4 linked regions of the Homo sapiens genome follow. The protein of the gene in region 1 interacts with the protein of each later gene in a biochemical or structural test. Each region holds a gene or a part of one and is shown in the gene's direction. Other genes may lie near its edges.

What was found.
Region 2: the proteins of ATRIP (region 1) and MCM2 form a complex in vitro, tested with the Homo sapiens proteins (one study listed by BioGRID).
Region 3: the proteins of ATRIP (region 1) and ATR form a complex in vitro, tested with the Homo sapiens proteins (4 studies listed by BioGRID and IntAct, with this or other methods).
Region 4: of the proteins of ATRIP (region 1) and SIRT2, one has a biochemical effect on the other in vitro, tested with the Homo sapiens proteins (one study listed by BioGRID).

Annotation. Positions count from the first base shown.
Region 1 is NC_000003.12:48,456,737-48,460,236, forward strand, and holds part of ATRIP (ATR-interacting protein), read left to right. Parts: intron 1-522; coding exon 523-680; intron 681-2,622; coding exon 2,623-2,718; intron 2,719-3,050; coding exon 3,051-3,180; intron 3,181-3,373; coding exon 3,374-3,500. UniProt on the Homo sapiens protein: Required for checkpoint signaling after DNA damage. Required for ATR expression, possibly by stabilizing the protein.
Region 2 is NC_000003.12:127,601,411-127,604,910, forward strand, and holds part of MCM2 (DNA replication licensing factor MCM2), read left to right. Parts: intron 1-3,197; coding exon 3,198-3,373; intron 3,374-3,466; exon of another isoform or gene 3,467-3,485; coding exon 3,486-3,500. UniProt on the Homo sapiens protein: Acts as a component of the MCM2-7 complex (MCM complex) which is the replicative helicase essential for 'once per cell cycle' DNA replication initiation and elongation in eukaryotic cells.
Region 3 is NC_000003.12:142,565,234-142,568,733, reverse strand, and holds part of ATR (serine/threonine-protein kinase ATR), read left to right. Parts: intron 1-579; coding exon 580-671; intron 672-2,472; coding exon 2,473-2,613; intron 2,614-3,500. UniProt on the Homo sapiens protein: Serine/threonine protein kinase which activates checkpoint signaling upon genotoxic stresses such as ionizing radiation (IR), ultraviolet light (UV), or DNA replication stalling, thereby acting as a DNA damage sensor.
Region 4 is NC_000019.10:38,889,619-38,893,118, reverse strand, and holds part of SIRT2 (NAD-dependent protein deacetylase sirtuin-2), read left to right. Parts: intron 1-2,974; coding exon 2,975-3,016; intron 3,017-3,157; coding exon 3,158-3,264; intron 3,265-3,373; coding exon 3,374-3,430; intron 3,431-3,500. UniProt on the Homo sapiens protein: NAD-dependent protein deacetylase, which deacetylates internal lysines on histone and alpha-tubulin as well as many other proteins such as key transcription factors.

The DNA of each region.
Region 1 (3,500 bases):
TGTACTCCAGCCTGGGCAATGGAACAAGACTCTGTCTCAAAAAAAAATGTTTTGGTGGAATTGTAAATAGTGATAATAAAGAATAGTAAAGGAATTATGGCTAATATTATATTTTTGGATGATTAGAAAAATATAAAAATGAGTAAAAGAATTTTCAATAATTTGGATCAAAATCCCTGGAATTAGCCAGTAACAGTGGATCATGCCTGTAATCCCAGCATTTTGGGAGGCCAGAGTGGGTGGATCACTTGAGCTCAGCAGTTCCAGACCAGCCTGGGTAACTTAGTGAATCCCCATCTCTATAGAGAAATTAAAATTTTAAAATATTTTTAAAAAGAAAAACAAATGCCTGGAATTTTGCACTGCTCCTCTGACAAAGAATGGTAGACATATAATAGATAAAACCTTTGGTTAAAACACCTAGACATGAAAAGTTTAAAGTTTGTTAGAAATTTTGTAACCAGATATTTTGAATGGTTTTAGTAGAATCATTACTTTGCTTTCATAGTTAACTTTTTCCAGTCCTAGGAAAAACCCTTCTGTGGTTATAAAGCCAGAAGCATGTTCTCCACAATTTGGAAAAACATCTTTTCCTACAAAGGAGTCTTTTAGTGCTAACATGTCCCTTCCCCACCCCTGCCAGACGGAGTCAGGATACAAGCCTCTGGTGGGCAGAGAGGGTAAGTCCATTAGTCATCTATTGATGTATAACAAGCTACCCAAATATGTGGCTTAAAACAATTATTATTTATTTTCTCCCAATTTCTGTGATCAGCAATTCTGACAAGGCACAGAGGGGACAATCTCTGCAGGGACTGGAATCACTGAAAGCTTGTCTTAAGCTGGAGGATCTATTTCAAGGTGGCTCACTCACATGGCTGGCAGTGTAATTTCTTGCCACATGGGCCTCTGCACATGGATATGGGGTATCCTCTTAACCTGGTGGGTGGCTTCCTCTAAAGCTAGCAAATCCAGAGAGAGCGAGCCAGGCAGAAGCTATCCATTTATGGCCTAGCCTCAGAAGTCACACAGCATCCCCTCTGCCACATTGTATTTGTTAGAAGCAAATCACTGAGTCTGGGCGTCATTCAAGGGGAGAAACCAAGCTTATACCTTTTTTTTAATTTTTATTTTTTATTTTTATTTTATTATTATACTTTAAATTTTAGGGTACATGTGCACAACGTGCAGGTGTGTTACGTATGTATACATGTGCCATGTTGGTGTGTTGCACCCATTAACTCGTCATTTAGCATTAGGTATATCTCCTAATGCTATCCCTCCCCCCTCCTCCCAAGCTTATACCTTTTGAAGGGGAGTTGTGTCAAAGCATTTGTGGGCCTTTTTTTTTTTTTTTTTGAGGCGGAGTCTCACCCTGTCACCCAGGCTGGAGTGCAATGGCACGATCTCAGCTCACTGCAACTTCCGCCTCCCGGGTTCAAGTGATTCTCCTGCCTCAGACTCCCGAATAGCTGGGATTACAGGCACCTGCCATCATGCTTGTGGGCATATTTTTAAACCATCACAGCATCAATTGACCATGCCAAAAACCTAGCTAGTATGCAGGAATCTGTTTTTCTTTTCTTGTTTTTTTTTTTTTTCTTTGAGGCGGAGTCTCACTCTGTCACCAGGCTGGAGTGCAGTGGCGTGATCTCGGCTCACTGTAACCTCTGCCTCCCATGTTCAAGCGATTCTCCTGCCTCAGCCTCCCGAGTAGCTGGGACTACAGGCATGCGCCACCACACCCAGCTAATTTTTGTATTTTTAGTAGAGACAGGTTTCACCATGTTGGCCTGGATGGTCTCAATCTCATGACCTCGTGATCCACCCACTTCAGCCTCCCAAAATGCTGGGATTACAGGCATGAGCCACCGTGCCCAGCCTCTGTTTTCCTTTTGTAGTCCAGCTTTTGAGTTTTTATAACTCAGTCCAGATTGAGGGGATCTGCTGTTTTTTAGAGAGAGACAATCTAACATCAGTAGGTTTTCAGACTGCTATGTCAGTGTATCTTATAAATCGGATACATTGACCCTCTTCTTACCATCAACCTTTCAAATCCTTGGCCATCATAACACTTCTGAGAAACTGTAGCCCACTTACATTTTTGGCATCTAGCAGCTAAAGGGGCAGTGTACAGTAGTGTTACAAGCAGGCAGTAGAGCCCAGTAGCCTGGATGTGAGTCCCAGTAATGCTGTTAACTGGCTTATATGATTTGGGCAAGTCCTTTAGTCTCTGTGCCTCAGTTTCCCTATATGTAAAACAGACCTAATGATAAATCCTTGTAGGGTCACTGAGGAACAAATGGGCTGATGCGTATAGAGCTCTTAAAACACTGTCTAGCACGTAACAAGCACCATGTCAATGTTAGTGGTCACTGTTTTATCTAATTGCCTCATTTTGAGTGAGGCAAACAGCTTGATTTTCTTTTCCTTTCCTTGTATGAGTTCCTGTTTTACATAAGGAAGGTAAAAGATGCAGGGCTCTTGAGCCGCTTTGGCTCTTGTTTGTTCCAAGTTCGAAGAAGTAGAACAGCGTGTGTTTTAAACTCATTGCATGTAAAAGTTTCTAATATGCCCATGCTTCTGGGCTCAAGTTTTGATTTACATTTTATCACATTTCAGATAGTAAGCCCCACAGTCTGAGAGGTGACTCCATAAAACAAGAAGAGGCCCAGAAAAGCTTTGTTGACAGCTGGAGACAGAGATCAAACACTCAAGGTACCAGAATCCCTGCTTCTCCTGCAGGGGCCTGCATGGCTCTGAGTAATATGCAGAAGAATTGCCCAGGCCTCTGAGAACCGGTGCCCCGGGCAGTCCTTCAGAGAGTCCAGGGAAGTCAAAGTATGTGGCTTAAGCAGAAGACTTTATAAAGTGGAAAGGGCCAAGGGCAGGTATGTCCCAGAGCCTTCCGCACCCACAGGCATCTTCCTGGGGCTTAGTGGCAGCCTAGAGGACAGTTGGCATCCAAAGAATCCTTACTGTTTCCTTCTGAAAGCCACCGAAAAGATCTCCCATGTCAGAACCTTCTAGAGTCATCTTGTCTTCTGCAGGTTCCATTTTGATAAACCTGCTCCTGAAGCAGCCTTTGATCCCAGGGTCATCCCTAAGCCTTTGCCACCTCCTGAGTAGTAGTTCTGAGTCTCCTGCTGGCACCCCCCTGCAGCCACCAGGGTTTGGCAGGTAAGCATAAGACTCCTGGAAAGCTTGTTTGGGAAGGAGCTTCCTGGAAGCAAATTCCTTTCTGGCCCTGGCCAGCCTGAGAAGTCTGTGGGAAGGGCAGGCAGCCTGGAGAATTTGGCAGGCAGGCTGTTTGGGGCTCTTGACCTTATCTCCATCCCACACTTAATCTATTTTTCTTTGTGTTTGTTGCCAGTACCTTGGCTGGAATGTCAGGCCTCAGGACCACAGGTTCTTATGATGGGTCATTTTCCCTCTCAGCCCTGAGAGAAGCACAGAACCTGGCATTCACTGGACTGAATCTGGTTGCCCGGAATGAGTGC
Region 2 (3,500 bases), about 79 Mb from region 1:
AGTGTAGTGGCACAATCTCAGCTCACTGCAACCTCCGCCTCCCAGGTTCAAGCAATTCTCCTGCCTCAGCCTCCCAAGTAGCTGGGATCACAGACATTTGCCACCACACCGGCTAATTTTTCTATTTTTAGTAGAGATGCGGTTTCGGTTTTACCATGTTGGCCAGGCTGGTCTTGAACCCCTGACCTCAGGTGATCCACGTGCTTCAGCCTCCCAAAGTGCTGGGATTACAGGTGTGAGCCACCACACCCGGCCCGTTACAGGTTTTTATGTGACCAGATCTTTAATTCTGTTGGCTATGTAGGAGTGAGATTGTTGGTCTTGTGTTTAATCTTTTGAGGAACTGCCAGACTGTTTTCAAAAGCAGCTGCACTATCTTGCATTCCCACCAGCAACACATGAGGGTTCCACTCCTCCGTGTTCTTGCCAACATTGGTCTTTTTGATTCTGGCCATCCCTGCAGGTGTGAAGTGGCATCTCATTCCTGATGGCTAATGATGTTGAACATCTTTTCGTATGCTTGATTGGCTATCTGTGTATCTTCAGAGAAATCCTGGACTCACTTTTTAATTGGGTTGCTTGTCTTTTTACTATTGAGTTGTAAGAGGTTTTTTACATATTCTGAATATAAGTCCTCTATCAGATATGTAATTTGCAGTTATTTTCTCCTCAATCTGGCTTATCTTTTTCGTGGTTTTAATGTTTTCTTTTGAAGTGCAAAAGTTTTGAAATTTGATGAAGTCCAGTTTAACTTTTTTTTTTTTTTTTTTTTGTATGAACCAATTAGAAGTTTGCTGAGGGCATTTTGTGTGACTTGAGATCCAGGGAGAATGGGACCGATACCTTTTCCCCGAAAACATGGAAGAAATCAGACCTGGTCAACTCTGATATCTGCCTGGCTGGGTTCTGCTTGGGGCATCAACAGCATAAAAAGATTTGTTCTGACAGTAGTTTGACAATGTTTATTGCAGAAAAATAGTAGCAGTTTCTCTTGTCACCATTTAACCTGAAAAAAGGAGAATTCAAGGGGATTGTCTTGGGGAGGCAGTATGGCATGGGGGAAGGAGCTCTGGGCTTGGACTATATTTTGACACTCAGGTCTACAGAGCGACCATAGGCAAAAATCACATTTTCCCCTCAACTACCCATTTCCTCATCTTTCAGATGGAATGACAGTGTCTCCTCCTCAGGGAAGAGAGCACTGCAGGGAAGAGAGCACAGTGCTTTGCACTCGCTGGGTGCCTTATTAAGGCATTACTTCTCTTCAGTATCTGAAGGAAGATAATGTGGAAAATGTGTGTCTGATGGTCTTAGAGTAGCTCAAAGGGTTGAGACAGTGGGTGGCCATTTCAGAGGGCTGGTTTGGCTGACTGTGCATGGAAGCCAGGACATCAGGTTGTTGAAGGCGGCATAGTCAGAGATGGGGAAAGTACAGGGAGAATTCCAGCCCTCACGGGGAGTTGGGTCAGCTCTCTGAAGCCTTTTGGTCTAATGTTTTGTGGTTCCTTGAATTATTTTTTCTTATTGGGCGCATAGAAGCTGTCTGGAGATCTACCTCCCCTTTTGTAATTGTGGTAAAATACACATAACAAAATTTACCTTTTCTTTTGTTTTTTTTTTGAGACAGAGTCTCACTCTGTTGCCAGGCTGGAGTGCAGTGGTGTGATCTCGGCTCACTGCAACCTCCGAAAGTGATTCTCCTGCCTCAGCTTCCCAAGTAGCTGGGACTACAGGCGCCCACCACCGCGCCCAAGTAATTTTTGTATTTTTAGTAGAGACGGGGTTTCACCGTGTTAGCCAGGATGGTCTCGATCTCCTGACCTCGTGATCCGCCCGCCTCAGCCTCCCAAAGTGCTGGGATTACAAGCATGAGCTACTGCCCTGGCCCAAAATTTACCATCTTAACCTTTTTTGTTTGTTTGTTTGTTTGAGACGGAGTTTCACTCTTGTTGCCCAGGCTGGAGTGCAGTGGTGCTATCTCGGCTCACTGCAACCTCTGCCTCCCTGGTTCAAAGTGCTAGGATTACAGGCATGAGCCACCGCACCCAGCCCTTTTGTTTGTTTGTTTGTTTTGTTTTGTTTGCTAGTTTTTTGAGACAGGGTCTTACTCTGTCACCCAGGCTGGAATGCAGTGGCACGAACGTGGCTCACTGCAGCCTTGAACTCCTGCGCTCAAGCAATCCTCCCAGCTCAGCCTCCTGAGTAGCTAGGACTATAGGCATGTGCCACCAGGCCTGGGTTATTTTTTTTTTCTTTTTGTTTTTTTTGAGACGGAGTCTCACTCTGTTGCGACCAGGCTGGAGTGCAGTGGCACAATCTCTGCTCACTGCAACCTCTGCCTCCCGGGTTCAAGCGATTCTCCTGCCTCAGCCTCTCGAGTAGCTGGGACTAGAGGCACATGACACTACGCCCAGCTAATTTTTGTATTTTTAGTAGAGATGGAGTTTTACCATGTTCGCCAGGATGGTCTCAATCTCTTGACTTCGTGATTCATCCGCCTTGGCCTCCCAAAGTGCTGGGATTACAGGCATGAGCCACCGTGCCCGGCCATTTTCTATTTTTATACAGATGGGGTCTCACTATGTTAAGGCTGTTCTTGAACTCCTGGGCTCAAGTGATCCTCCTGCCTTCACCTCCCAAAGTGCTGGAATTATAGGCATGAACCACCATGCCCAGCCATCTTAACCATTCTTATGTGTATGGTTCAGTGGCATTAAGTACATTCATATTGTTGTGCGGCCATCACCGCCATCCATCCACAAAAGTCTTTTCAGTTTGAAAACTGAAACTGTCTCGGTTAAACACTAACTCCCCATTCTTCCCAGCACCTAGCAACCATCATTTTACTTTCTGTTTCTGTGAATTTGACCGCTCAGTGAGTGGAACCATATAGGATTTGTCCTTTTGTGCCTGGCTTCTTTCACTCAGAATCATGTCCTCAAGGTTCATCCATGTGCCAGCACGTGGCAGAATTTCCTTCTATTTTAAGGCTTCATCGTCCATCATATGGACAGATCGTGTTTTGTTCATCCATTGGAGATCTTTTCTGAGCCTTCTGTGTTTCTGACCTGGAAGCGCTGAGCCTACCCACAATGGGGCTCCTGAACCTTAGGGAACAGGCCCAGTTCCTGGATGGGGTTTGGTGCTTAGGGTTTTCCTTTTTGGCAGTAACCACATCTGTTTTGGTGCTCCCTCAGGGACTACCGCGCCATCCCAGAGCTGGACGCCTATGAGGCCGAGGGACTGGCTCTGGATGATGAGGACGTAGAGGAGCTGACGGCCAGTCAGAGGGAGGCAGCAGAGCGGGCCATGCGGCAGCGTGACCGGGAGGCTGGCCGGGGCCTGGGCCGCATGCGCCGTGGGCTCCTGTATGGTAGGTCCAGTTGTCTGCCTGCCCGAGGGACTGGGAAGCTGGGAAGGAGTCTGGGAGGGGAGTAGAAGGTGCTGGGGATGACCGCAGTAGCAGGTGTCTCTTGCCTCCCCAGACAGCGATGAGGAGG
Region 3 (3,500 bases), about 94 Mb from region 1:
CAGCGGGAGCAGGCATTTCCAAGTCTGTGAGGGCAGGGGGCCTTCCCGGCCCTGGAAAGAGCAGGGATGCCTGGGTTTGCAGCCGTGGTTGGGCGGCTGCAGCTGCACCCAGGATGGCTGGGCTCCCGACCCTGCAACTCGGAAGGGGGCGGGGCTTCCACCTGTCTTGCACCTCAGAAGGGGGCGGGGCTTCTGCCCACTAGCGCCCTGGAGAGAGCAGCCCTAGCACCACCTTCCTCACCGCTCCAACTGGGCTGCCACTGCCATCAATAGCACATTTCAATTTGTACTAATCACATTTCAAGTTCTCCCTAGTTACTTGTAGCTAGTGGCCACCATATTGAGAAGTTCAGGTCTAGGCTTTGCTGATTGGATCTCTTTAGTATTACTTAGCATATTCTTTTTTTTCTTGTAAGTTGGTAACATATTCAGATTTTCTTTTCAATTTTTAAACAGAAGAATACTGTGAATATCAACATTGACACTGAACACATTTGATGAGTTCTACTTTAGAGAAATTTTTTTTGCAAATGAAACTGAGTCACTTTAAGGATTAAAAGCTTTTAATTTGTATTTTAGTGCCACACCAGAGGAATATAATACAGTTGTACAGAAGCCAAGACAAATTCTGTGTCAATTCATTGACCGGATACTTACAGATGTAAATGTTGGTAAGAAACCAATTATTTCTTATATAAACTTTATAAATTAGACTTTTCTTTTCCATGTATAAATTATAGTAGCATTTTCTCCATGTAGTTTTAGATATGGAGTATTTATGATAGTTACTATTTTCAAGCAAGTTATTTGTTAATCAGTATTGCTTATTGCTTGTTACAAAATTTGAATTAGGCTTTTAAAATAATTCTCTTTTCCTGTTTGTTATCTAGATTTTCTACTGCTTGCTATGAGTTCTTTAATATTGGATATTATATGTAAAAATATTTGTCCAGTACCAATCATGTGGACCCTATTTTGGTTAGCTGTTATGCCAGTGGTAGACTAATAGCAAATGCCACCCAAAAAAACCTCTTTAAGTAAGTTACTCTTTAAGTAGGTTCATGCCTGTGCCTATAGGAGATTATAGGATTATGTGAGTTACTGAATCAATTATTGCCTGTTTGTGCCAATCTGCTAGACAGAATATTACCAACCTGGCAAGATGGTGTCACATTTGTCATATCTGTTGAAATTACATGGGAGGGATAATATAAAATGGCATTAGGCTCAGGGTTTATAATTTGGATTCCAAATTTGGCGCAGATTTTATGACTTAGACTAGCCATTAATCCTTTCTTTTTCAATCAGTAAAATGATGGGTTGCTGAAAAATAACAAAGGACTACTGAATACTTACAAGATGTGTTTTTGTATCGTATTCATATTCCCTCCGTTTAGACTACTTGCCCTTCCCCTCTCTGACCAACTCCTCATCTAGGAATCATTTCCTTCACAGTGTCCTCCCAGATACCTGTTTCTCCTTATTCTGGATTAGTGCTGTTACCATATTGTATTATAATTATTAGTTGGTTTGTTTGGCGCCCCACTGGATTGTGAGAACTTTTTTTTAATCCTTAGATTTTAGCATTGCCTGGCATATTATTCCTGAAGTACATGTTTGATAAATAGATGTATGGTAGAGGAATGCATGTGATTTTTAAACATTTAAAATTAGATAAGACTGTAGTGTTGGCTGGGCACGGTGGCTCACGCCTGTAATCCCAACACTTTGGGAGGCCGAGGTGGGTGGATCACCTGAGGTCAGGAGTTTGAGACCAGCCTGGCCAACATGACGAAACCCTGTCTCTACTAAAAATACCAAAATTAGCTGGGTGTGGTGGCACACACCTGTAGTCCTAGCTACTCAGGAGGCTGAGGCAGAAGAATCACTTGTACCCCGGAGGCACAGGTTGCAGTGAGCCAAGATCACACCACTACACTCCAGCCTGGGCAACAGAGTGAGACTGTGTCTCAAAAAAAAAAAAGACTGTAGTGTTTAGCCCCATCAATTTAGCTTGAATGTTGTTGAGTGCTGTGCTGGATATAATTCTGGTCACCAAAGTCTGGTTCCCCACCCCCACCCCACTTTTTGTTTTTTTTTTTTTAATTTTAAGAGACAGAGTCTTGCTTTGTTCCAGGCTGGAGTGCAATAGTGTGATCGTAGCTCACTACTGCCTTGAACTTCTGGGCTCAAGGGAATCCTCCAGCCTCAGCCCCCTGAGTAGCTGGGACTATAGGCACACTACCACTCCCAGCTAATTTTAAGAAAAATTTTTTTTGTAGAGACGGGATCTTGACATCTTATCCAGGCTGGTCTTGAGTTCCTGGGCTCAGGTGATCCGCCCACTTCAGCCTCCCAAAGTACAGGGGTTACAGGAGTGAGGCACCTTGCCTGGCCCACAGTCTGGTTTCTTAACAAAAGGACCATTGTTTAATTTGTCATGACTCTTTAAAATGAATCTTATTGTTTTAGTTGCTGTAGAACTTGTAAAGAAAACTGACTCTCAGCCAACCTCCGTGATGTTGCTTGATTTCATCCAGCATATCATGAAATCCTCCCCACTTATGTTTGTAAATGTGAGTGGAAGCCATGAGGCCAAAGGCAGTTGTATTGGTAAGTGCTGTTATTCATGCATTCACTTGCCATCTGTTCTATAAAATCCTCCTTTTACTGCTCTTCTGAAATATTACATGTACAGGATTATACTTTTTTGGGTCAGCTTTGCTATAAATTGAAGGAGCAAAATGGTAATGGTTATTTTTCCTTCACATATCCTTATTGTTTTCTTTTTAGTATTGTATACTAGGTACTTAGAAATAATCAAATTTGTTTATTTGCCATTGAACACTTTGGCATGGTTTTCTTTTTTCTGTTTTTGGTAATCTCTTTCTTCTAGATCAGAGCTTGGCAAGCTGTAGTCCACAGGGTGGCTGCCTGTTTTTGTGAACAAAGTTTTGGTGTTTTGTTTTGTTTCCTTTTTTTTTTTTTTTTTTTTTTTTTAAATAAGACAGGGTCTCGCTATGTTGCCCAGGCTGGTCTTGAACTGGTAGACTCAAGGGATCCTCCTGCCTCAGCCTCCTGCATACCTGGGACCATAGGCACATGCTACTGTGCCTGGCTTCAGTTTTTGTAAACAAAGTTTTATTAGAACACAGCCATGCTCATTCTTTTACTTATTGTCTGTGACTACTACAAAGGCAACTTGGGCACTCAAGCCAAAAATATTACTATCTGGTCCTTTAAAAAAAGTTTGCTGACCGCTATTCTATATATTGAAGCTTTTCTCTAGGCTTATTCTTTATTGCACCTACTACTTTTGTCCCTTCATTGGTGTCTTCATAAAGAGATGCAAAATAAACATTTTTTTTGTATAATGGATAAAGTATTTTAAAATTTTTTGTTCAAACTTTAACTCAACTTTGATAGCATGTCCTCCAAGAAGTTTTTTTCTGAGCACTACTTCTAACTGCTTAGAACTGGCTTGGTTATTCCTTTATTCT
Region 4 (3,500 bases), on another chromosome or scaffold:
CTGCCACCGAGAGAGCACCTTTTCCCAGTAGTTCAAACCAAACAGCAGAGATTGGCTCCCATTGGTCCCGGTTGAGTCAAATGCCTGCCCCCATGCCTCTGATTGGCCAGACCTGGGTCGCTTCTCCATTGCTGAGTGAATTACTGCACTCTGATTGACCAGGCCTGTTTCATAAAATGAGGATAATGATTATAGTATCTAACTCATAAGGTTATTGGCGGGGCTAAATAAATTAATATAGGACCAGGGGCAGTGGCTCATGTATGTAATCTCAGCACTTTGGGAGGCCATCGTGGGAGGATCACTCAACGCCAGGCGTTCAAGACCAGCCTGGGCAACATAGTGAGACCCCCCCGCCATCTCTACAAGAAAAAAAAAAATAGTCAGATATGGGGGCGTTGCCTGTAGTCTCAGTTACTCAGGAGGCTGAGAAGGGAGGATTGTTTGAGCCCAGGAATTGGAGGCTGCAGTGAGCTATGATGGCACCACTGCACTGCAGCCTGGGCAACACAGTGAGACTCTGACTCTAAAAAAAAATAAAGTAATAAAATTTAAAAGATAAATAAAAATGCAAATGCTTAGAGCAGGGCCTGGAACATAGCGAGAGCTGTGGCAGGGTGTGCCGTGGTTATTACTACAGGAGGCTTATTTCAGATGTGGTGGATAGGTGTCCACTTACTGAGTCAGCATGAAATTTATATTTCTTTTTCTTTTTTTTTTTTTGAGATGGAGTCTTGCTCTGTTGCCCAGGCTGGAGTGCAGTGGCACAATCTCAGCTCACTGCAACCTCCACCTCCCGGGTTCCAGCAATTCTCCTGCCTCAGCCTCCCGAGTGGCTGGGATTACAGACGCACACCACCACGACTGGCTAATTTTTTGTATTTTAGTAGAGACAGGGTTTCACCATGTTGCCCAGGCTGGTCTTGAACACCTGAGCTCAGGCAATCCACCCTCCTCGGCCTCCCAAAGTGCTAGGATTAGAGGCATGAACCACCCGTCCCGGCCTGAAATTTATATTTCTTGCCACAAGTTGAGGTCACCAAAGTCTGAGAAACCAGGCCCTTGGCAGTCCTCAACTAGAACAATCGACCCTTTGTGGTTCCTGAGCAGCCTTTTGTTGAGGACATCTTCTCCTGTGTCCCTGTCCTCCAGCTGCCACTGTCTCCCTCCTCAGGCAGCCAGGCCTGCTGCCCTGAGCCTCCCTCTCCTGCGGCAGGCGAGCAGCTGTCTGCAGCCATCTTTTAGCCTGGGCAGGCCCCAAAGACAACACAGGCAGTGGCTACAAAGCATTTGTTCCTTGTGTCCTCCTGCACCTGGATTCTGGGGTAATTGGCTCATGAGGGTGCCCAGGAGGAGATAGTAATGAAAAATAACAATTAGTTGAGGCCGGGAGTGGTGGTTCAGGCCTATAATCCCACCATTTTGGGAGGCTGAAAGCAGGAGGATCGCTTGAGGCCAGTAGGTCAAGACTAGCCTGGGCAATAAGCGAGACCCCCTCTCTGCAAAAATTTAAAGGTGAGGCTCCAACCCTCACCTCACTGCTCTAAAAATTTATTATTATTATTATTTTGAGACAGAGTCTCACTCTGTTACCCAGGCTGGAGTGCAGTGGCGCTATCATGGCTCACTGCAACCTCTGCCTCCCGGGTTCAAGCGATTCTCCTGCTTCAGCCTCCCGAGTAGCTGGGATTACAGGCGCGTGCCACCACGCCCGGCTAATTTTTGTACTTTTAGTAGAGACGGGGTTTCACCATGTTAGCCAGGCTGGTCTTGAACTCCTGACCTCAGGTGATCTGCCCCCCTCGGCCTCCCAAAGTGCTGGGATTACAGGAGTGAGCCACCGGGCCCGGCCCTAAAAATTTCTTTTTAACCACTTAATTGAGGCTTCACTATTTGCCAGGCACTGGGCTCAGCACTTTACAAGTGCCCTATTATTTGATATTCACATTATACCTGTAAGATCATTATGGAAGTGATCTGAACAGAGGAGGAAAAGGAGGCACAAAAAGGTCACGACTCAGTGTAGGGTCAAACAGTTGCCAAGTGGCAGAGCCAGGATTTGACCCCAGGTCCCCTGAATCCAGACCACATGTAGCCACCACTGGATTCAACCAGGCCTGGCCTGATGGCATCTCAGAGCTGAAGCTCAGGGCTGAAGCTGTGGCAGGCTTTGTGCTCTGTTCACCTTTGCTGTCCTCCCTTGGACAGGGCATCCCAGAGGCATCTGATCCACAGCATATCACACTTGTGCCTGTCTATCAGCTGATGGGCAGATGCCAGGGTACTATGGCCTGGTGGCTACTCACCAGCCACCAGCTAGCTATTTCTGCTCAGCCCAGGGTTCTTATCCTAAAGTGGCCTTTTCTCAAGTCCAAGTTGGTGTGATTTCCAACAGTGGATTCTCTTTTTTTTTTTTTTTTCCTTTTTTTGAGATGGAGTCTCGCTCTGTCACCCAGGCTAGAGTGCAATGGCATGATCTCGGCTCACTGCAACCTCCGCCTCCCGGGTTCAAGTGATTCTCCTGCCTCAGCCTCCCAAGTAGCTGAGATTACAGGCACGTGCCACCACGCCTGGCTAATTTTGTATTTTCAGTAGAGATGAGGTTTTGCCATGTTGGCCAGGCTGGGCTCAAACTCTTGACCTCAGATGACCCGCCTGCCTCAGCCTCCCAAAGTTCTGGGATTACAGGCATGAGCCACTGCACCCAGCCCAACACTGGATTCTTTATCCGCTGGCTGGCTCTTCCGCAGTTGATTGTGTGACTTCTTCCCCTATCTGAGCCCCAGTTTTCTCATTTATAAAATGGGGATGTTAACACCATCCCCGTCTAGATGATTGGAAGGCCCGTCATGCATCTGAGATGCTTGCCCCAGGGCCTGGCATGGAGTAAACGATGTCAGGGGCTGTGATGGGTGGTGCTATCGTAGGGACTGAGCAAACGGTGTCATATGGTGCATAAGTTCCTCTCCTCCAGGTCGCAGAGTCATCTGTTTGGTGGGAGCTGGAATCTCCACATGTAAGTAACCCTTCTCCCCCAGCAGCTACCCCCAGGAACTGGGGAGTCCCTCCCAAGGGCTGGGGAGGAGCCCTATCTGAGCCCTGTCCTGGGAGGGTTAGTATGGTATAGACCAACTGCTCCCTGACCCCCCTTTCCTAGCCGCAGGCATCCCCGACTTTCGCTCTCCATCCACCGGCCTCTATGACAACCTAGAGAAGTACCATCTTCCCTACCCAGAGGCCATCTTTGAGATCAGCTATTTCAAGGTTTGTGCTCCCCCAGGAAGGGGCGTCTGTGAGGGGTGGGGATGGGGTCACCTGGCTCCAACCCTCACGCTACCTGGGGCATCTGGCCCTCTGGCTGTCTCTCCTACAGAAACATCCGGAACCCTTCTTCGCCCTCGCCAAGGAACTCTATCCTGGGCAGTTCAAGGTGAGATCTTTGTTTTGCAGGGGGCGAAACAGGAAGGGTTGGGGGAGGGCACGCATGAGAAGCCCCGCCA